7 linked regions of the Homo sapiens genome follow. The protein of the gene in region 1 purifies or fractionates together with the protein of each later gene. This does not show direct contact. Each region holds a gene or a part of one and is shown on either strand. Other genes may lie near its edges. The genes, in order: SUCLA2, DIRAS1, CACNA1C, MAEA, MKLN1, HARS2 and GFM1.

Region 1 (3,500 bases):
TTAATGTTCTACATGAAATCCGTACTGGGGCTTTCAAATATATACCCAGTTGCTTCAAAAAACAAGCTAGTTAACACACAGATTCAGCTTGTAAAACCTAATACCCTCGAAAAACAGATAATTCTAGTATAAAATGATTATCAATGCTCTCTTCCAAACACCAGGTCTATAAAGGGATTTTCTCTTCACCAGAAGCTTTATGTTCAACATTTTAGGTTCCATAAAGAGAGGAGAGCTGTGCTAATGTAATACTCCTTAAAACCATATTGTTTGCTACTTAATGTCATCCCTCAATTTACCAAATATTGAATCATATAGTGAAACAAACCCGAAACTATTAAAAAAAAAAAAACAAACCCAAGAAGTTGAGAAAACAGAAGATGAGGCAATGGATACACATTCTTCTAGTGGGTTCAGCAACTTTCTCTTTCATTAGAATATTTTACTATGCTAGATATAATTTTCTCAATCTGGAGATGATCCAGAGATGATTTAAGCTGCTTTTAGTGAATTAACAATTTGAGAATCCCATGAAATTTATTACAGCAGAATTTTTCCTATAATTTTAAGATCATGATATTATATATCAAATTTTACGGCATTAAAGAAGCTGTTTTTTAAATGACATAAATATCATGCTCATGACATACAAACAGATTATAATTTGTACTTTTAAAATCTTTCCCACATAAATAGAAACAATAATGGACTTTTGAAATTGAATGTCATAAATTTATCCCGTATGTATCATGTCTACAATTACTCACTTGAAATGACCTTTCCATTGTTATTGCAAAGTAGTATTCTCTCCTGGGATATTTTCGCTCACAGACCAATACTTGATTGCATATTCTGCCCTTTTCTCCCGTTTGCTTGGTAAACAATTTTTTCCCAATCATTTGTGAAGAAACAGCTTTTGCTTCTTCTGGACTAAAATAAGAAAAAGAACTCAAATTTTTCTTTCCTCCAGTTGAGAAAAAGCAAATCCACATAATAGCCAAAATTTTATCTCATCTAATATTTAAATTTCAGTATTTTCATCAATTCAATAAGTAATCTTTAATCAGTCTTTAACAAGGATGATTTTTCCTTAAAAAATGTGACTTACGAGAAAACTATCTTCACTCCTCCTTTGAGGCCACTTTCAAATGTTCCTTTTCCTCTACCACCAGCTAAAACCTGTGCCTTTATCACGACATCTTTTGAACCTAGAAGAAAAACACTTCTATTAAATATGAAGCATGGAGCAGCATGCCAGACATAGTATTTTGTTATTTAACATACATATTGACAGGTGTTATTAAATCAAGTCTAATTTATTCACAATGTCCAAAAATAAGGCATTCTCTTTATGTAGATTTTCTAGATTAGAACACTAAAATAATCACTGTCTAAAAGGCCCACAATTTTCAAAATTCGTCACTTACATTAAACCATTTCTTTTTTTTTTTTTTTGAAACAGAGTCTCGCTCTGTCGCCCAGGCTGGAGTGCAGTGGCGCGATCTCGGCTCACTGTAAGCTCCGCCTCCCAGGTTCACGCCATTCTCCTGCCTCAGCCTCCCGAGTAGCTGGGACTACAGGCGCCCGCCACCATGCCTGGCTAATTTTTTTGTATTTTTAGTAGAGACAGGGTTTCACCATGTTAGCCAGGATGGTCTCGATCTCCTGACCTCATGATCTGCCCACCTCGGCCTCCCAAAGTGCTGGGATTACAGGCGTGAGCCAGTGCTGGGATTACAGGCATGAGCCACCGCACCTGGCCACATTAAACCATTTCTTAAAAGTAAACTGAAAATAATTTAACCATTTCTTGACACTTTGGAAAGTGTCATCTAGAACTCTGGAAAGTATCAAAAGTACAAAATTGAATTTCATGTCTTCCTAACACGTCCCTCCCTCTCTATTCACATGTAAACTTGCTGTCCTGAGAACATCTGAGTTATATCGCTATAGCAGGAATATGTCATGATTTGGGGGATATTACCATTACCAGTATTGATACTGATTTATACTGTCCCACTAAGAGAAAGTTCTATTAAAATACATTATTGAGCAGTACTGCATGAGTAGTACTATCAGGAGTTATTAAGGTATCTGTATCAAAAGATTTCAGAATTCTATGCTTGCAAAGCTTATGCATATTTTTAAATAAATGGACTGAATTTTTCTTCTTTAACAGGTAGACTGATTACTATTTATCCCTTTTCCTCTCCTTTCTAATTTGCTGTGGAAAACCAGCAAACTGGCTGTTTAGCCTAGATAGTACTCATCATTCATGATCAAGAGTAAATGGGCCCGGTGCGGTGGCTCACTCCTGTAATCCCAGCCCTTTGAGAGGCTGAAGCAGGCGGGTCACATGAGGCCAGGAGTTCGAGACCAGACTAGCCAATATGGTGAAATCTCATCTCTATTAAAAATACAAAAATTAGCCAGGCATGGTGGTACATGTCTGTAATCCCAGCTACTTGGGAGGTTGAGGCACAAGAATCACTTGAATCCGGGAGGCGGAGGTTGCAATGGGCCAAGATTGTGCCATTGCACTCCAGCCTGGAGGACAGAGCAAGGCTGTCTCAAAAGAGTAAATGCTCTGGGTGATGGGTATCCTAAATGCCCTGAATTGATCATTACACACTCTATGCATGTAACAAAATATAACATGTACCACAAAAATATTATGTATCAGTTAAAAAAAAAGAGTAATACCTCTTAGAAAGGCATTCTCTGTGTACCAGACAGGCAGAATTCAGAGCCTCCTCATTTTGCCTCTCATAGCATTTTGCCCACACTGGCAGGGTGGCACCAACTATACATTATGGCAAAATAACCTTTGAGATCAGGGCTAAAGGTCTCACTGTATTCATTATATCCCAAGCACAAGGAAGTCTCTGGGATATAACAACTACTCCATAAACATGGATTTGAACAGACTGAAGTAGAGTCCTCTACAACTAGGATGTCACTCCACGATGCATTTATCAAGCAGAATGAGAGGAAGCTCCCACCTAATCAGATGAACCAACCAAATCAATGAGGTAGGAAATGGAGTTTGAAACCAAACAAAAACAACCTAAAGTTTACACATTAACAATTATTTTAAAAGAACATTTAGAAAATTACTGATGTAAGCCTTCACCAGAAATACATGCTATTTAAACCAGATGATGACCCTATGCGTAGTCAGCCAAGAGAGTGTTTAAAAAACTTGTCTTTCTCAAACCCCACTTCCATTCAGCCAGGAAATCATACTGGTTCTATCTTCAAATTTATCCAGAATCTTCACCATTCCTCATCACCTGCAGTTTAGACTCTGATCCCAACCACCACTATCTCTTAACTATATGACCTTTGTCCCCCACAGAATATTCTCAAGGCAGCAGCCAAAGCAGGCACACCATTCCTCTACTTAAAACCTTGCACTGAATGCCAGTCTCACTCAGTTAAATGCCAAAGTGCTTACAATGGCCTAGAAGACCTTATAATACCCTCTACACTTTTTATCT
Region 2 (2,153 bases), on another chromosome or scaffold:
ACCTCCTCCACCCTTCACCCCATCCCTCACTTCCTACACCCATCACCTCCTCCACCCTTCACACCATCCCTCACTTCCTACACCCACCACTTCCTCCACCCTTCATCCCATCCCTCACTTCCTACACCCACCACCTCCTCCACCCTTCACCCCATCCCTCACTTCCTACACCCGTCACCTCCTCCACCCTTCATCCCATCCCTCACTTCCTACACCCACCACCTTCTCAACCCTTCACCCCATCCCTCACTTCCTCCACCCACCACCTCCTCCACCCTTCATCCCATCCCTCACTTCCTACACCCATCACCTCCTCCACCCTTCATCCCATCCCTCACTTCCTACACCCATCACCTCCTCCACCCTTCATCCCATCCCTCACTTCCTACACCCATCACCTCCTTCACCCTTCACCCCATCCTGCACCTCCCCACCCTTCTTGATCCTTTACAGGCGGTGAGCTGACACCCCACGCCCACCACAGAGACAGGGCGCCATGCTGGTGGGGAATGCAGGATCCACTTTTTTATTGCAGGAAGACTATGTCTAGAGCGAAGGCTACACAGACCCCACGATGGGGGAGTGGGGGCACCCACATGCGGGGGGAGAGGGGGCAGGGGCGGAGTCACAGCAAGCATGGCCTGGCACAGTCCCCAGCACCAGGGATGCCCAGGCAGGATGGGCCAGCAGCCAGGACAGGCTCGGGTCCCCTCCTATTGCAGATGCCCTCTCTCCCCAGGGTCGGGCAGGGCCTGAGGTGGGAGAGGCCTGGAGGTGGGCAGGGCCCCAAGGAGATTGTGCTATCAGGGTGTGTCCCTGAGAAAGGGCCGCAGACCCCTGCCCAGCCTCACTCTCTCCGGCACCTTCAGAACCCAGAAGCTACTGCCAGGACAGGAGAGGAGGCAACATCAGCTGCTGGTGGGCCCTGGGCCAGCCCAAGTTTTGGGGGGACCCAGCTCTGCTCAGACACAATGCCAGCTCTTCTGGGAGCCCGGTCCACGTGCTGGATAGCAACACACACGCACGTGTGCACACTCCCTCTCTCTGAGTGTGTCCAATAAACATTTGTTGAGTAAACACTCACACGAACACAGAGGAAAACAAACATGCTTGTACCAAATCAGACACGAGCAATCTGTTACCTACATAGTCCCACCTGGCCACATGACTACAGAGACACATGTGTGCAATCTCTCTCTCTCTCTCACTGCACAAAAGGGCGTGCGCACACACACACGTTGCTTCCTCACACCCAATAAGACCAAAACCTCCATCTCACCTTCCCTCACTAACTTAGCTGCCATGCTCCGAGCCCCGCTGTGGAGAGACCCACATGGTACAGAACAAAGGGCAGCTTCCAGCCAACAGCCAGCGAGGAACTGAGGCCTTCAGTCTTGCAACAGCAAGGAACTGAATGCTGCAACAACCACATGAGCTTCTAAGAAGCAAATCCTTCCCCGATCAGGCCTTCAGATGAGACCTCTGCCTGGCGAATGCTTTGATTGCAGCCTCCTGAGATCCCAAGTAGAGGACCCAGCCAACCTGCACCCAGGCTCTTGACCCACAGAATCTATGAGATAATAAGCATGTGTTGTTTCTGGTTGCTACATTTGTGGTCATTTGTTACACAGCAGTAGCTGACTGATACAGATTTGGAACCGAAAGTCACATTGCTAGAGTCATGTTGCTATAGAGTGGAACACAGATCGTGTCCCTCAATCAGGACAAACATATTTACAGATAAATGCTCTCAGATAAACCATATCACCCACTCCCCAAAATATAGTCATGCTCATACAGGCACAAAGATTCACACAGACACCTCACACATATCCAGTCTTGCTGACAACCACACACAGGTATCTACAACTACCCACCTCTCTGTATACCCTACACCACTATTACACACACAGACTGCCACAAAAACATATCATCCCAGACAGACACACACAGGTATACACGCAGATGCACTTAGATACAAGTCACCCATCCGCGCACCCCAGGTTGCACAAATACACCATTCCATAGCCACTTCCGTGTATGTTGGACACAACCCTGTGGGGTCACACGAGTGTGGTGTCACTCAGACTCTCTCAAAAAACACCCAGAACCTCATGGCTGCAGGTACACTCGACTCCAGGACGCCACCTTCC
Region 3 (2,732 bases), on another chromosome or scaffold:
ACAAATTATTTTTACTTAAGGGGTTATTCTGAAAGGTTTATCGAAATCAGATTAAGTTATAATAACAAAAAAAAAGAAAAGCAATCTTACATTTGTATAGTCCTCATAGTACTTTATATATTATCATATCTCCCCCTCCTTTCTTCTCTCCTACATTCCATCCCTCTTCCCTTCTGTCCTTTCAAAACCAATTTCAGAGACTGCTTTTCCTGTCTAATCCATGTGAATTAGCCATTTAATTCCTCTGATTTTGTCTCCTTTTTAACTTTTGGCCATTTTTCTGTCAACTCTTTCATGAGAAGGAAGAAATAGGGGATGGGTTAACTGCTGAATGGACTTAGGTATTATCATTGGATTCATATTTCCTGTGTTCTCTCCAGTCTTCTTCCTTTTGGGGATCCCAGACAGTTGAGATAACTGAGTGAAGTTTGTATTTGTGACCTCTAGGAAACAGGAGAAAGGAAGAAATAAGGAAGAGGGAAGATACAATGAAGTCAATGTAGACATTGTTAAGAAATTTATTTGCAATTCTTATTTTTTGTGTTTTTTGTTTGTTTTTTAAATAACATCATTCCTTAGATAAAAATGCAATCTTACAGGAATATACAATAGTGTCTCACACAGAGATGACCCTGAAGCTCTCCTTGAAGGGTTGCCCCTTCTAGATTCCCTGGCCTTTCTCGAGGGTGAGAAGGCCCATCAGGCGAGGCCTCTGACAATGGGATTATTTGAGGATTACAAACTGTACAATGATATTTACAACAGTAAGACTGTGAAGTCGTGGAGCCTGGAGGGGAGGGTGTGGGGGTGTGTAGGGGTGTGGGGAATGGTGACAACGGAGGCACTGCCCATCTTTCTGTGCCTCTCTGATAACAGGCATGATACAGATTGGTTTGGGGGATGAAGGTGGGTTTGAGCTGGAGGACATGAGGGAAGGGGAGATTAGAGGAGCTTTATCTGGAGCGTTTCACAGGAGGAAAGTTTTGCATGGTAGCTCTGGTGGATTAAAATAAAACAGCAATATTATGAGAGTAATAGACCTTTCAGTGCTTCACCAACGGGGAATCTGTCGCCCTATTTCTTAATGAATGTGCGTGTTTTGCCATGGGTTATTCTCATCCACTACCATCACAGACTTGTCCAGACATGCTCATCTCTGTTTCCCATGGCCTCACTCCCACGAGGCTTGGGGGAACAGCATGCATTCTGGCCAGGACAGGACATGGCAATGGGGTGGTATATAACCTGGCTGGGATTCAAGAGATGGATTTCAGGTGTGGGTATGGGCTGCAGCTGGATGCATAGGTGGCCTGAGGCAGGAAAAGAGAAGGTGCGCACAGCTTTGGGATGCTGGAGACACCTCCTGAAGGGGATCTTTCTGCACAGGACTGTGTGTTTACAAATCATCTTCCCTTGATGTACAAGTTCTTTCCTTTTCCCCTTTTAAACATTGGTGTAGTTTCTCCATATTGGGAAGTCTTGGGGTTGGGGGCTATGTCCAGGACCCAGTGACCCACCCTCTTTTGCTTCTCTTGTGACTCTACAGGAGAGACTTCTCTTTTCTCCTGGCCAATGGCCAGGAGAGGTTTCTTCAAGGGGGTCCCTGAAACCTGCAGCCTCAGGTTCCTTGGCAAGGGAGCCACTGCTTGGCCTGGTGCCTGCTCACCTTTTTTTCCTTATTCCCTTGGTAATAAACTTGAGATCTCTAAGATTTCCACAATGGGAATTCTCCAGACCCAAACAGTGAATAAGAATCATTCTGTCCATTTCTGCATTTCCTCACATAGAAATGACCCTCTCTTAAAACTTACAAACTCTTCCACCCAGAGCTTTTTTTTTTTTTTTTTGGATAATGACCTTGGTTTGAGGTGCATGAGTGAATTTTAGAAATGAATGTACAATGTATGTCTGATTCACACCAGGGGAAGTGGCACAGTGCCCTTTCTGGGATCCCTACAAAGTCAAATTCCTTAGATCCTGAGAAGTGGAGTGCATGGGATGCCCTGAAAAGGTGGGGGTGTCCCTGTGTAGCAGCCAGTAACTGATCTGAAGGGAGAGGACTTGGCTCTGGTGATGTAACATTTCAAGCCTCTGTGTAATTACCTAGTCTTAGTCTTTTCTTCCTCATTCTTAGTAGAGACGTGGGGAACTTTCATGAAAAATGCTAATTCTGACTCCTCTCAGCGTGCAACAGATTTGTTACACTTCATCCACTCAGCTGCAAGATCTAGAGTGCTTTCAGAGGTGACTGGAAGAGTTCTCTAATACCCTACAAAGACCATGGATCTTTGCCACTTCAGGTGCTGTGGCTCAAACCTCTTAAAGTCATCCCAGGAAAAAGTGTTGATTGTAGTATTCTCTCAATGTATGTAAATAGAATTTATGTCATAATAATAGTAGGTTCTGATGGTACTACTTCCATCCAAGGGAGTCACTCTACTGCACCCTCCTTGTCTGTGTATACAGTGCTCACCCTTGCAGGAGCAGGAAAGTCCCTCATCTAGAGCTCAACCCCAGCCCTTGTGCCTTAACGGTGTGTGTCTGTGTAGTGAGGGGGGTTGTTCAAGCATCCCCCGTCAATGTAGAGATGTGGCAGAAACCCGTTCACCTGTTGTATTGGTATCTGGCTCCAGAAAGAAAAGTTTCATTGCTTTGACATAAGAATAAATTGATGAATGAAGTTAAACCCAGAAGAGGCTTCACAAAGAGGTCGTGTAAGCATCTGCCCATGG
Region 4 (3,500 bases), on another chromosome or scaffold:
TGCCTGGTGGATGAGTGTGTCTGGTGTTGGATGAAGTTGAGATTGGTGTTGGATGAAGTTGAGATTGGATGCCTGGTGGATGACCGTGCCTGGTGTTGGATAAAGTTGAGATTGGATGCTTGGTGGATGAGCGTGCCTGGTGTTGGATGAGTTGAGATTGGATGAGCGTGCCTGGTGTTGGATGAGTTGAGGTTGGATGAGTGTGCCTGGTGTTGGATGAGTTGAGATTGGATGAGCGTGCCTGGTGTTGGATGAGTTGAGATTGGATGCCTGGTGGATGAGTGTGTCTGGTGTTGGATGAAGTTGAGATTGGATGCCTGGTGGATGAGTGTGTCTGGTGTTGGATGAAGTTGAGATTGGATGCCTGGTGGATGAGTGTGTCTGGTGTTGGATAAAGTTGAGATTGGTGTTGGATGATTTGAGATTGGATGCCTGGTGGATGAGCGTGCCTGGTGTTGGATGAGTTGAGATTGGATGAGCGTGCCTGGTGTTGGATGAGTTGAGATTGGATGAGCGTGCCTGGTGTTGGATGAGTTGAGATTGGATGAGCGTGCCTGGTGTTGGATGAAGTCGAGACTGGACGGGGCCTGAATCCATATTTAGATGCTGTCCAGAAATGCGCCCTGAAGACTCCAAATGACACGAAAACATGCCCGGTACGAGATGCGGCCGAGCCAGTTGGGGTACACGGCTGTCTGTGCAGTCTGCTCACATGTGCACGCACGCCAGGGGGTGTGTGGGGAGGCAAGGAGGAGCCAGACTGTGCTCTAACGGGTCCCTGGGACCAGCTGTGAGAACCTAGATGGGAAAAGAAACTTGAGACCCAAGTTTGACCTGGCTGAGAGATGGATTTCACAGGCATGGGTGGGTGAGTGGCCCTGAAGGCCCCTGAAGCAGTGATTTGTTTGCTGCACGTCTGTGCGAAAGCCACACGGAGCCATCAGTGTGGGCGCCTGTCGCAGGGCGGGCACAGCCTTGTTGGCGCTCCACGCCGTATGGGACAGTGTAGACTCGGTGTTTTAGATTTGGGTCTGAATACCTAAGTTTCACGACATAGACACACTTACATATTAGTGGACCAATTGAAAGTAACCTACTAGAGCAAAAGGTGTTATTGAAAAGCAGGTTTGAGGTGTCTATTGTGTGAAGCGGTAACCTAGAGTGGGCCCAGAGTCCTGCTCTTCTAGAGCACCCCCTCGGCAGCTGCGTCCTGCCTTTAGACAGAGCCCCGGCACTCGCCTGCTCTAGACACGGCAGCCATCAGGCAGCCCCTGGGAGGCAGGTGGGGCCCTGGTGGGGAGCCTCTATCTCTTCCCGCTGGCCCTTCCCTTCCTCTCCTGCCAGGCTGGCTCTGAAGGGAGCGGAGTGCTGACCGAAGTCTGCCTGCTGATTAGTGGGGTGGGGACTCGGGACCCTGGGATGACTTTGTGCCTCTCGGCTGATTTGTACCAAGCCTGGCACTCCCCACCCAGAGCCTGTGCCACTGCTGGGGTCAGAGACAGTCCTCCTGCCCCAGCTTGGAGCAAGCCTGTGAGTTCTGCGTCCAGCCTGTTGACCCGTCTGTCTAGGGACACAGGGTGATGAGGGGCTGAGGGTACAGGGCAGAGGCAGCAGGGCAGGGACCTGAGCCCCTCTGAGCCCCTGGAAGGCAGGTGGCCCCCGGGGGTCTGGGCAGCCCAGTCCTCCCCACACCCACGCGGAGCCACTGCTGTGGGTGCTATGCGTGTCGGGGCAGCAAGGCTGGCAGGCGGGGTGGGCTGGAGCACAGGTGGCTCCTCAGAAAGCTCAGTGGGGAAAGCTCTGGGAAGCGGAAGTGATGAGCTTCAACTTAAATGCAGTGGTCCGGGGTGGATTCATCTGCCACGTGGAGTTTCTGTTCATGCCGTCCTGAGAGCCAGGCCATGTGAACCCAGAGTGACACGCGGCCCCAGCCCAAGACTCGCTCCGTGGTGCCCACGCCTATATCCTGTTTCCGGGGTGAAGCCCTGAGAATGTCCTGAAACCACACGGAAGATCTTACGGTTTAGACGGACATGTCACTTCCGTAGAATCCGCGTCTCATCTTGGATGACTGCGGTCAATGTTGCCGCTGCCCCCACCCCAGCCACAAGTCTCGGCCCACGTTGGACTGAGGTTGCTGAGATTTCAGATTGAGGGTTGGGCTTCCCTTAGGTGCACGTGAGAGGCTCATAGGCAGACACATGTGGGACTTGGTCCTGCAGGAGCTTCCCCCACCCCCGCCCCTGCCTCAGGCATAGTGCCTTCAGCCAGCAGCCCCAACTCGGCCTCTCTCCGTCTTCTACACATCCTGGAAGCGCCCTCCCTTCACGCGAGCCGCCCCTTGGCCTCACAGCCACCTAGGACCTCAGTGTCCCCTGGGCCAGGCCTCCATTCCATGTGCCACCCGCCTGGGGCCTCGGCACCGGCCCCGGCTTCTGCCCGCCATGTTCTCGCCAGGTGTCTGTGCGGTCCCCCGTCCATAACCTCGGTGCAGGCGCTCCCCGCCCTACCGACCTGGGTCCTGCCTGCTGCAAGCTTGCTTCTCTGCCTCATGCCCCTGTGAGGCACCAGCCAGCAACCCCACATGTGGTCCCTGTCTCCTCCCCGCCCTGCCGACCTGGGTCCTGCCTGCTCCAAGCTTGCTTCTCTGCCTCATGCCCCTGTGAGGCACCAGCCAGCAGCCCCACATGTGGTCCCTGTCTCCTCCCCACCCGGGGCATCAGCGCCTCGGGACAGGACTTGCCCACGTTCTCCCAGAACAGCCCCGGGTTCAAGCCAGCACCCAGTCTACATTCGGGATAGTTGGGTCCAGAGGCCCGGTGGGAGTGTAGAGGAAGCAGTGGCCTCAGGGCGGGACCCAGGAAGCTGCTTTGTCCTTGCAGAGGGGTTGGTGCCTTTGCTCCAGCAGCTGCACCTGCTGCTCTGCCCTCCCAGCTGTGCTCCTGGAAGCGCCCTGAGCGCCCTGGCCTTCGGGTTGAAATGCTGGGCGGCTGCACGCCCCACCGCAGCTGCAGGAGCAGGGGGCGGGACTCACATTCAGAACCCAGTGTTCCCTGGAAAGTCTGCTGCAGGTTAAAGTGGCAGCTTCAGCCTCAGCCCTGCCTTCCCCGTGCCTGTGAGAGAGGGGTTCAGAGCTTTGGTTGTGGGGTCTGCTGGTGGACATGCGGGTGCGGCACCCGGGCACCTGGGCTCTGTGGGATGTGCTGTCTAAGCCCTCGTCTTGTCTTTGCCCTCAGAGCTGCCTGGAGTTCAGCCTCAGAATCCAGGAGTTCATTGAACTCATCCGGCAGAATAAGAGACTGGACGCTGTGAGGTAGGCATTGCGGACGTGCGTCTCCTCGAGGGAGGGCAGGATGTTCGGCTGCGGCCCCTGCCAGCCCTCCCTGTCGTGGTCTGGGTCCTGGGACGTCCCCTGGGTCGTCCCCTGGGTCTTGAGTCTGACCCCTGCCTGCTCAGGTGGCTGCTTCTCCCACTGTTCCTGAATGGGACTTGGGGAGTGA
Region 5 (3,500 bases), on another chromosome or scaffold:
AAAATTCTGCATATAATGTCTGGCACTCCATCAAAAAATTGCCTAATAATAATTATTACTATTATGTTATTATCCACATGTAATAATTTATATAATATACAATAGAATATATAATTAACATACATTAATATACAAATATATTAACTATTATTATTATTTGGCCTAACAAGATGCAAAATCAAAAGGAAAGAGATGATGGAAATAGGCCTATAGGTGATACAGATATTGAAGTTTTCAGACACAGACTTTAAAGCAATTTGATTAATATGCTCAAAAAATACATGACAAGAGATTTTCACATAATTAGAATCTATCTTAAAAAGAGAGGATGAAATAATTCTAAAACTAAAAAATACTATAACTAAAATTAAGAATAGATGGGGTTAAAAAGCAGATTGGACATAGTTAAATTCAGAATAAGTGAACTGAAATACAGTCAAGTAAAAACTATCCAGAACGGATAAGAGGAGGAAAAAAATCATAAAAATAACAGAAGAGAGCAGGAGACATATGGGGGATAAAAAGTATAATAAAGATTTAATTGGAGTCACAGAGCAAAGGAGACAAAAATGGGGCAGAAACAATATTTTTAAAAAGTCAAAATTTTTTCACAGCTGATCAGTCATACTACAAATTCAAGAGGTGCCAGAAACGCCAAACAGGGTACAAACAAAACCATTCTTAGGTGCATCACTGAAAGCTGTTTAAACTTAAAGAAAAAGAGAATGACAAAAAGAAAGGCAGCTGAACAAGAAAGTCATACTACCTTCCAAGAAGCAACAGTAAGTCTGACGGCTGATTTTGCAACAGAAACAATGGAAGCTAGAAGACAATGAACTGAGATCTTTAAAGTGCTTCAAGAAAATAACAGCTAATAATGTAGAACTGTACAGTCATTTAATATATTCTTCAAAGATGAAAATAAATAAATTTCAAACAAGCAAAAACTGAGAATTCAGTACCACCAAACTCCCTAAAAGGAGTTCTTCAGACAGAGGAAAATTAATCTCAGATGGAAGCATGTAAATACAAAAGGAAATAAAGAACAATGGAAAGGGTAAATATTAACTGTACAAAACAACAGTCTCTGGATTTAAATGTAGACGTGAAATGCATGACAATGACAACATAAAAGCAGGAGAGTGATAAATGCTATTAAAGTTTTCTAGGGTCCTAACAATGTCTGAGATGTTGTTTTTCAAAATCCTAATGAATATGCAACTCTAATGTACCACAAGAAAGCTTGTGGTGATCTAGCGTAACCACCAAAAGAACAGTAACAGAATATATAACTAACAAGCTAACAAAGGGAGGAATAAAATAATATTTTTAAAACACTTGATTAATCCAAAAGAAGGCAACAATGGAGAGAAAATAGAATATAGAACAAGTAGGACAAACAGAAAACAATAAAATGACAGACATAAACCCAAATTTATCAATAATTATATTTACCATTAATGAGCTAAATATATTTCAGATTTAATTAAAAACAGGCAAACAAAAATCTGTTTATTCTTAACAAGAAACAGACCCCAAATATAAAGCTACAGGAGCATTAAAAGCAAAAAGGAGAGAGAAAGTTTTACCATGCAAGCAAACAGCAGCCAAAATAAAGCAGGTGTAGCTAAGAAGACTTTGAGGCGAGAGACAAGTGTTACTAGAGATAAAAAGGGACATGTTATAATGATAAAGAGCCAATGTACTAGAAAGATAAGTTTGTATGTGCCTAGTAATATGACTTCAAAATACATAAAGCATACAGTTTAGTTCTTTATAGAACTAAAAGGAGAAATATACAAATCCACAATCACAGTAAGACACATTTGACACTTAACCTCAAGACACCTCTCTCTGTAATGAATAGAAAAAAAGGCAAAAAAAAAAAAATTCAGTAAGGATAGAGAAGATTTGTACAACACAATAACACAATTTACAAACTTGAACTTAACAAAGTACATAGAAGACAGTAGTTAACAGCAGAATGCATAGTCTTTTCAAGGGTACATAAACATTTATAAAAATGCTGAGCCATAAAATAAGTATCAATAAAGGTCTGAAACTATTCAGAGTGTGTTCTCTAATCATAGTGAAATTAAGAAATTAGTAACAGAAAGATAACTAGCAAATCCCCAAACGTTCAAAAAGTAAGCAATACATTTGTTAAAAAAAAAAAAAAACCTACAGGTCAAAGAATAAGCCAAAATAAAATCTGAAAAACATTTTTGCATAAATGATAATGAACATGTAACATACCACAATTTGTGGGATACAGCTAAAATGTGTTGAGAGGAAACCCTATAGTCTTAGGACTAAACATAGCCTAGTTTTCCAATTATTATTAACAACCAATTCAAAATATAAGTTATGTTAGGGTACTTCAATCTAGTTAGCTGCCATTCAACAACTTTTTTAGGGACAGATTTATATTAGACTACTTAAATTATTCCTAGATAATGACTATGATATTTCCTTTCTCTTTGTATACTTTTTTAAACATGGATTAATCTTAATCAGTAAAATTTCATCATAAGCAAAACCCATTAAACAAACAATATCTTTGTTTATCTACAGCATAAATATACATACACAGTATTCTACAGAATGTTACTTTGACTTCACAGATTTTTAGAAATATTCGTAACCAAGTCCTGAAGTTCTCATTAAACAACAACAAAAAAATTTTCTAACTGAAACATCTTCCCAATGTGCAAAGATGTTAAAAAATATTTTCTTCAAAAGTCCCCCATATTAATAGATTTTAATACTGCTGGACTTCTCAGAGCTTTATCTGACCACCCCTTAATAAGCAACAATCTACAGAACCAGCCATTCACAAAACAAGCCCTGGGAAATCCGGTAGCAGAGAAGATACCCGGATCAACTATCCTAAGATTGAACCTATAAAGACCTAGAAATTTTATAAATTTTCTATTGTCTCTTATCAGAGATTTCTGACAAATGGTATTATAAACAAACAGTAATTAGGGATCTCTAAATTCTCAACTGTACATTCTTTGAAACATTTTATACATATTAAAATGTCTATAAATAGCTGTATCTCTAAAATTAAAGTCTAGAAAATCTTTCATATTTCCAAAAACGATTTTTGAATGACTGAAATACAGCAAACTCATTGCCACAAGTGGCTGAAATGTATCTTATCTACACGTAAAACATCACAAAGTCTTTGTATCAGGCCAAAAATCATTTATTAAAAATCTATTTAAATATTTACCTAAAAGTTAACGCAAATAATAGAACCATTTACCCATGTGCCCAAAAAATTGTACATAAACCTCTCAACATTTGATCAAGATAAAAAGTATTTCTACACAAGAAACTGACGCTCAGAAAAGAATCATAACTTGCCAAAAGTCACAAATATCTAATTCTAGGAATCAGCTCTGTAGACTCAAATTCTCATCCTGAGTACATTTCTTCCATCTTGAGTGTTTTTATTTTTCTGAAGTTCTAAGAGTCCCAGACTGAAAAACACA
Region 6 (2,675 bases), on another chromosome or scaffold:
GACTCGGGACCCTGAGAGCCCTAGAGCTCAGCAGGAGGTCCATTTGCAATTCAGCTTACCTTATCAGCAATTCCAAATAAAGTCAGGTATTCAAATAGCAGCTTTAGGTCTCCCAGGCCCTCCAGGGCCTGCTTGTTCTGGGATAGTCTGGGATCCTGAAACATTTGCTCTACTAGGGATACCCCACCTGGAGAGAAATAAAGTCTCTGCTGTTCACTCACATGTGTTTCATTCAAAATTATCCCTAATGTGCTCTAGCTAGTCTTCCTCATTTTCTTTAAAAAAAAAAAAAAAAAAAAAAGATCCCAGTCTCACATGACAAGACCCTCCTCCTTTGCCTCTAGCTTTGCCATCTGAAGACACAAAGTCGTTACAATAAGTAAAAGAGAAATTAAATTCAGGACAGGCCCTGGAGCTTAGCATATCTACAGAAAAGAGTTGTTTCAGAGGTAGAATTTGAGCACATGTCACCTTCAGCCTGGTTCTATCACAGCTCTGAAAACCCTGGTTCTTACCATGACACTGGACATAGTCCCCAATTCGATCAGCCACCTCAGGAGCCAGGCCTTTCTTCACCACCATCTCATGTCTCACATCTTTCCAAGCCATCTGCATAAACACCCAAACATTAGCCCAGCCCCAAGATCTTTCTTTCTCAAACTGAAAAAGGACAACTCAACTTCCATTCAGTATATACATCACAAGTAGCTAACTGTATACTCAGCAAAGTCAGAGACAGCTTAAGAAATCCAGTCACAATCCCCACTGTATAGCATGACTCAGATCTTCCTTCAGAGTATGCCTCCTTACCTTCCACCCCAAAATAGCCCACTTCCAGCCACAATCTCCTTATTTTTCACTAGTGGTATGGATTTGAGGGCAGGGCAGAAGCTAGATAGGGTCTACTGAAGTATGTCTTCTTTGTTACCTTGTCTAGTTTATCTATGGAGGAGCAGATGGCACGGAACTTGCTTTCAGGAACACCACAGACAGCAAACATCCCATCCACAATCCGCCGGTCATTTACCTGAGAACTCAATGTCAGTGACCCAAGTGCTTGTCAATGCCCTTCCACTCAAAACAATGGCAGTACCTACTTTCCTGACACACAAAAAGGATGGAAATTTCACAGGAAGAGTACAGACATATAGGAAATACAACAGCTTTACTAGGAAAGTCCTACAGTTGCAGGCTTAAGGGTTGGAGTCACCCAAGTTTGGGACTTGCATAAACAGTATTAGGCCAAATCCAGACTTCTCCCACAGTTCTCAGCCCTGGCCTCACCTTAATGAGAAAGTCTCCCAACTGCAATCCACTTAGGATTTCACACATGATCTTCAAACACTCTGCATCGGGGATCATAGGGTCAAACTGACCAGCAATGTCAAAATCCTACAGCAAAGAAAAAGATGGGAAAAAACATCCATTATCCAGCCAGTTTCAAGGTTGTGGCCCCTAGAACTATCAAACTGTGCTGCTCCCATCAGGTCACTTACACACTGGCAGAACTCCCTATAACGGCCTTGGACTATGGTTGGGCTCTCTCGCCGCCACACCTTTCCAACATGATAACGTTTCATCTTCTTCACCTTATTCATGGCCAGATAACGAGCAAAGGGAACCTCACATAAATGGGTTAAGGAAGAGGGATACTGCATCCAAAGATTAGGCCCAGTATACAGACATTAGGGAGGACTGGGCCTGGATCTCATCCACTAGGGTAAGAACAAGGACCTTCCCTTTTTTCCACTATCCCCAAGGCCTAGCAGTGCTTGGAATTCAATATATATTGAATAGTGTCAAATGAAGGAATCTCACCTAGCAAAACTAAAAGTTCAGCAGAAAGCAAGGCAAGTAGAGATAGAAGTGACCCAAGAACTAACTTCAGGTCTTTCTGCCCATTCAGATCGATTCCGAACCATCTCAAAATAGTCAAGCTTCAGAACTTGGATTTGCCTAACAACTTCTAAGCTACTGGTTCTGAAAGTGCAGGGAAAGGACTACATGCATCTTAATTACCCACGATGCTTGTTTAAAATGCAGACTGTAGGCCAGATGCAGTGGCTCACACCCGTAACCCCAGCACTTTAGGAGGCCAAGATGGGAGGATCACTTGAAACGATGAGTTTACAACCAGCCTGGGCAACAAAGACACCCATCTCCACAAAAAAAATTTTTTTTTTGAGACAGAGTTTTGCTCTTGTCACCCAGGCTGGAGTGCAATGGCGCAATCTCGGCTCACTGCAACCTCTGCCTCCTGGGTTCAAGTGATTCTCCTGCCTCAGCCTCCCTAGTAGCTGGGATTACAGGCACCTGCCACCACAGCCAGCTAACTTTTTACGTCAAAAGAGATCTGTGGAGACAAGGTGACAGTCAGTCCCAAACTAGACTCAGAACCTGAGAGCCCCAGAGCTCAGCAGGAGCTGAGTAGAGATGGGGTTTCACTATATTGGCCAGGCTGGTCTTGAACTCCTGACCTCAGGTGATCCACCTGCCTCAGCCTCCCAAAGGGCTTGGATTACAGGCGTGAGCCACGTGTCTGGCCAAAAAAAACAATTTTTTAATACAAATTATTGAGCCCCATTCCAGCTACAGAATTAGCTAAGAATCTCTGGGACTGCAGCCAAATGTCTGTGCTTCTGCAAGCTCCCCCAAAGGATTATGATACACACTAG
Region 7 (3,500 bases), on another chromosome or scaffold:
GATTAGTGATTTTAAAATTCATTCAGAGGAATAAATAGGTAAAAACAGAAATTTTTCAAAAACTATGGTAATAAGATAAAACTAACCCTGACAGATATAAAAACATATTAAAATGCTTGAAACTCAGAAAATTCAGAACCAGCACAAATTAGACTAAACACCCCACAGAGTACAGTATAAAAATCTAAAGTATAAAATATATTTGTCAATAGATGATAAAGAAACATGACAAATCAATGGAAAAGGAAGAAAGGATTGTGCATAAAGTACTAACTGGACAACTGATACTCTATTTGGAGGCAGAGGAGATACATTTAGATCCTACCCACTAAAACAAATTCCAGTTGAATTAATGATGGGGAAAGAAAAAAAACATAAAGAAGTAGAAGGAACGAAAGTAAATATTAACAAAATATATACAAATAAAAGGTTGCTAAGGTTAAAAATTAATGAATGACTAAACAGAAAGACTGACATATTCGACTATACAAACTTTAAAGCACTGATTGCTTTTAAAAATCAAAATTTATTTCATCAAGATAAAAGATTACAATAGAATTCTTCATTTGTTAAATCAGTAATGATTTTTAAACAATACTCAATGATGATATTCATTGAAATAATCCAATACATTAATTTGGAGAGTATGAACGCAATCTGGCAATATAAACCATTAACTATGAAAACATTCTATGCCTTTAACTCAATAATCACTATTCTGGGAATCCTAAGAAAATATTCTTATATATGTATTTTTAAAAGCTTTATGTGTAAATACTTTTACTGTAATGTTATTTCCACTTTTTAATTAAAAAAATTTTCCCCTCATTTTGGAGGTAATAAATATACTGTAAAATATTTTTAAAGTAAGAAAAAGCCCCCAAAATATAATCCCATCCCAGAAATAACCACTCTTAACACTTCCAACTTATCTACCATTTTTCCCCACTTAAAATATTATGTACAGAAGCAACAGCATTTCAACAAAAAGCCCATCCAGTCCCCAAATCTTGGTTTCTAATACCATTTTACTTAAAAAGGAACCAGTGCTCCTTGGAGAACGGCTGATTCTAGGGTTAGGGCATGGAATATACAAGATAAGCCTGAGGCGTCTTGTAGTGCCAGCAAGTAAGGAAGTATTCAAAAAGGCAAAACATTGGAAGATGTTAAAGGAACACAGGAGCCAACTGAGAGTTCCCAATCGCCAAACCCAGCCAATCTGAACAACAAATGACATACTCAAAGTCATAGTTATAACTCAAAGTTCAAAATACATATACGTGAGTCCACGCTGATATTAAATAAGTGATTGTCCAAATAGATAAATAAGCAGGGAAGAAAGACAAATCTCCCTTTCAGAAGAATTCCAAATAACTTATGTAGATAGTGCCCCCTTCAAGGGGGTGGAACATAATTCCCCCCTCAAGTGTTGGCTGAGCCAAGTGACTTCCTTCTAAAAAGTACACTATGAAAAGGGGAATAAAAAGAGTACAGTAACTTTACAGCAGAGAAACCTGTCAAACACTATCTCAGCCAGGTGTGGTGATTGAGGTTAGCATTAACAATGATAAATCAGCCGGGTGCGGTGGCTCATGCCTGTAATCCCAGCACTTTGGGAGGCCAAGACACTCGGATCACCTGAGGTCAGGAGTTCGAGACCGGCCTGACCAACAGGGAGAAACTATGTCTCTACTAAAAATACAAAATTAGCTGGGCGTGGTGGCGCATGCCTGTAATCCCAGCTACTTGGGAGGCTGAGGCAGGAGACTCGCTTGAACCTGGGAGGTGGAGGCTGCAGCGAGCCGAGATTGTGCCATTGCACTCCAGCCTGGGCAACAAGAGCGAAATCTCATCTCAAAAAAATAAAAATAAAAACAAAAAAAAACAAAAACAATGATAAATCATGCTGCAAGTCTGTACCTTGGATATGATGTGACAAGAATAACACTTCACCTCGATGGCAGTCCTCCTAAAAACACATGACTCCAATCTAATCATGTGAAAAGCATCAAATAATAAACCCAAATTGAGGGACACTCTACAAAAGAGCTGACCAATACTTCTCAAAAATATCAATCTCGTGAGAAACAAGGAAAGTCTAAGAAACTATTACAGCCTAGGAGATCATAAGGAGACATGACAATCAAATATAACGTGGTCCTCTGGATGGGCCTTCTGTGGTCCTTCTGTCTAGTGAGACGGAAAAAGGACCTAGACAAAAACTAAAGAAATTCAAATGAAGTAAGGATTTTAGTTAATAATAATATATCAGTATTGGCCCATTAGTTGTGACAGTGTGTATTAACAATAGAGGAAACTGGGTGCAGGATATACAGGAATTCTCTGGACTATCTTCATAACTTTTCTTTAAAATATTCTAAAATAAGTAAGTTTGTTTCTTTTTAAATCATAAACATCTTTTCATGTCAAAAATAGGCATTTCAACATAATTTTTAAAGTCTGAATAATGTTGTACTATAAGAATGTACCTCAGTTTATTTATCAAATTGTAATTACTGGGCATTTTCTTTTTTTTTTTTTCCGAGATGAAGTCTTGCTCTGTCGCCCAGGCTGGAGTGCAGTGGTGCGATCTCGGCTCACTGCAACCTCCACCTCCCAGGTTCAAGCAATTCTCCTGCCTCAGCGTCCTGAGTAGCTGGGATTACAGGTGTCCGCCACCATACTCAGCTAATTTTTGTACTTTTAGTATAGACAGGGTTTCACCATGTTGGCTAGGCTGGTCTCGAACTCCTGACCTTGTGATCCGCCCGCCTTGGCCTCCCACTCCTGACCTTCTGATCTGCCCGCCTCAGCCTCCCAAAGTGCTGGGATTACAGGTGTGAACCACTGCGACTGGCTGGGCATTTTCAATTGTTTGCGAGATTTTGGTTTTATAAGGTGAGCTGAAGCTAACATTAATTCGCTACCCTTCATTAGTTCCTTAGGACATATTTCTAGAAATGGACCCAATGTTATTTATAACAGTAGAAACCTGGAAACAATATAAACATCTAACAATTAGGAAATTTTAAGCAAATTTTGGTGTATCTACTTGATGCACTGTTATGCTACTATTTAAAATGCTTAAACTATTTATAGAAACATGGACCATTATCTACTGTGACATTAAATAAAAAGAGCAGGACAAAACTATACAGGTAGTATGATTTAGGTAAAAATTTACACTCTTCAGGCAAAGAGAAGAGACTAGAAAGAAATGCACCTAATAACAAAAGAACTATCATGTCAGAGCTTTGGAAATTCTCTACCTGCTCTTTCTACTTTCCTATTTTCCAAATCTTTCATAAAAGTCAGAGTCATTCTGTAATAGGAATAAAGCCTAGAAGTAAAAACATTCTACAGATAGCAGTTAAATACATTAGAAAGCAACTTACCTCCAGTTTAAAAGCCAGGCCTACAAATGGGTGGGAATTGTCTCTACTGGAGTTCATTAGGATTTTGGTTTTCTCTTTTGAGTCACTTAAAATAAAAGAAATATA

What was found.
Region 2: the proteins of SUCLA2 (region 1) and DIRAS1 purify together in Homo sapiens (affinity purification with mass spectrometry; one large-scale study listed by BioGRID and IntAct). This does not show direct contact.
Region 3: the proteins of SUCLA2 (region 1) and CACNA1C purify together in Homo sapiens (co-immunoprecipitation; one large-scale study listed by IntAct). This does not show direct contact.
Region 4: the proteins of SUCLA2 (region 1) and MAEA purify together in Homo sapiens (affinity purification with mass spectrometry; one large-scale study listed by BioGRID and IntAct). This does not show direct contact.
Region 5: the proteins of SUCLA2 (region 1) and MKLN1 purify together in Homo sapiens (affinity purification with mass spectrometry; 2 studies listed by BioGRID and IntAct, with this or other methods). This does not show direct contact.
Region 6: the proteins of SUCLA2 (region 1) and HARS2 purify together in Homo sapiens (affinity purification with mass spectrometry; 2 studies listed by BioGRID and IntAct, with this or other methods). This does not show direct contact.
Region 7: the proteins of SUCLA2 (region 1) and GFM1 purify together in Homo sapiens (affinity purification with mass spectrometry; one large-scale study listed by BioGRID and IntAct). This does not show direct contact.

What each region holds. Positions count from the first base shown.
Region 1 is NC_000013.11:47,987,774-47,991,273, forward strand, and holds part of SUCLA2 (succinate--CoA ligase [ADP-forming] subunit beta, mitochondrial precursor), read right to left. Parts: intron 1,209-3,500; coding exon 1,109-1,208; intron 931-1,108; coding exon 768-930; intron 1-767. UniProt on the Homo sapiens protein: ATP-specific succinyl-CoA synthetase functions in the citric acid cycle (TCA), coupling the hydrolysis of succinyl-CoA to the synthesis of ATP and thus represents the only step of substrate-level phosphorylation in the TCA.
Region 2 is NC_000019.10:2,714,067-2,716,219, forward strand, and holds the end of DIRAS1 (GTP-binding protein Di-Ras1), read right to left. Parts: 3' UTR 501-2,153; downstream 1-500. UniProt on the Homo sapiens protein: Displays low GTPase activity and exists predominantly in the GTP-bound form.
Region 3 is NC_000012.12:2,695,719-2,698,450, reverse strand, and holds the end of CACNA1C (voltage-dependent L-type calcium channel subunit alpha-1C), read right to left. Parts: 3' UTR 501-2,732; downstream 1-500. UniProt on the Homo sapiens protein: Pore-forming, alpha-1C subunit of the voltage-gated calcium channel that gives rise to L-type calcium currents. Mediates influx of calcium ions into the cytoplasm, and thereby triggers calcium release from the sarcoplasm.
Region 4 is NC_000004.12:1,324,391-1,327,890, forward strand, and holds part of MAEA (E3 ubiquitin-protein transferase MAEA), read left to right. Parts: intron 1-3,236; coding exon 3,237-3,313; intron 3,314-3,500.
Region 5 is NC_000007.14:131,334,376-131,337,875, reverse strand, and holds part of MKLN1 (muskelin), read right to left. Parts: intron 1-3,500. UniProt on the Homo sapiens protein: Component of the CTLH E3 ubiquitin-protein ligase complex that selectively accepts ubiquitin from UBE2H and mediates ubiquitination and subsequent proteasomal degradation of the transcription factor HBP1.
Region 6 is NC_000005.10:140,694,455-140,697,129, reverse strand, and holds part of HARS2 (histidine--tRNA ligase, mitochondrial isoform 1 precursor), read right to left. Parts: intron 1,623-2,675; coding exon 1,497-1,622; intron 1,393-1,496; coding exon 1,285-1,392; intron 1,028-1,284; coding exon 929-1,027; intron 610-928; coding exon 516-609; intron 188-515; coding exon 60-187; intron 1-59. UniProt on the Homo sapiens protein: Mitochondrial aminoacyl-tRNA synthetase that catalyzes the ATP-dependent ligation of histidine to the 3'-end of its cognate tRNA, via the formation of an aminoacyl-adenylate intermediate (His-AMP).
Region 7 is NC_000003.12:158,654,527-158,658,026, reverse strand, and holds part of GFM1 (elongation factor G, mitochondrial), read right to left. Parts: intron 3,481-3,500; coding exon 3,396-3,480; intron 1-3,395. UniProt on the Homo sapiens protein: Mitochondrial GTPase that catalyzes the GTP-dependent ribosomal translocation step during translation elongation.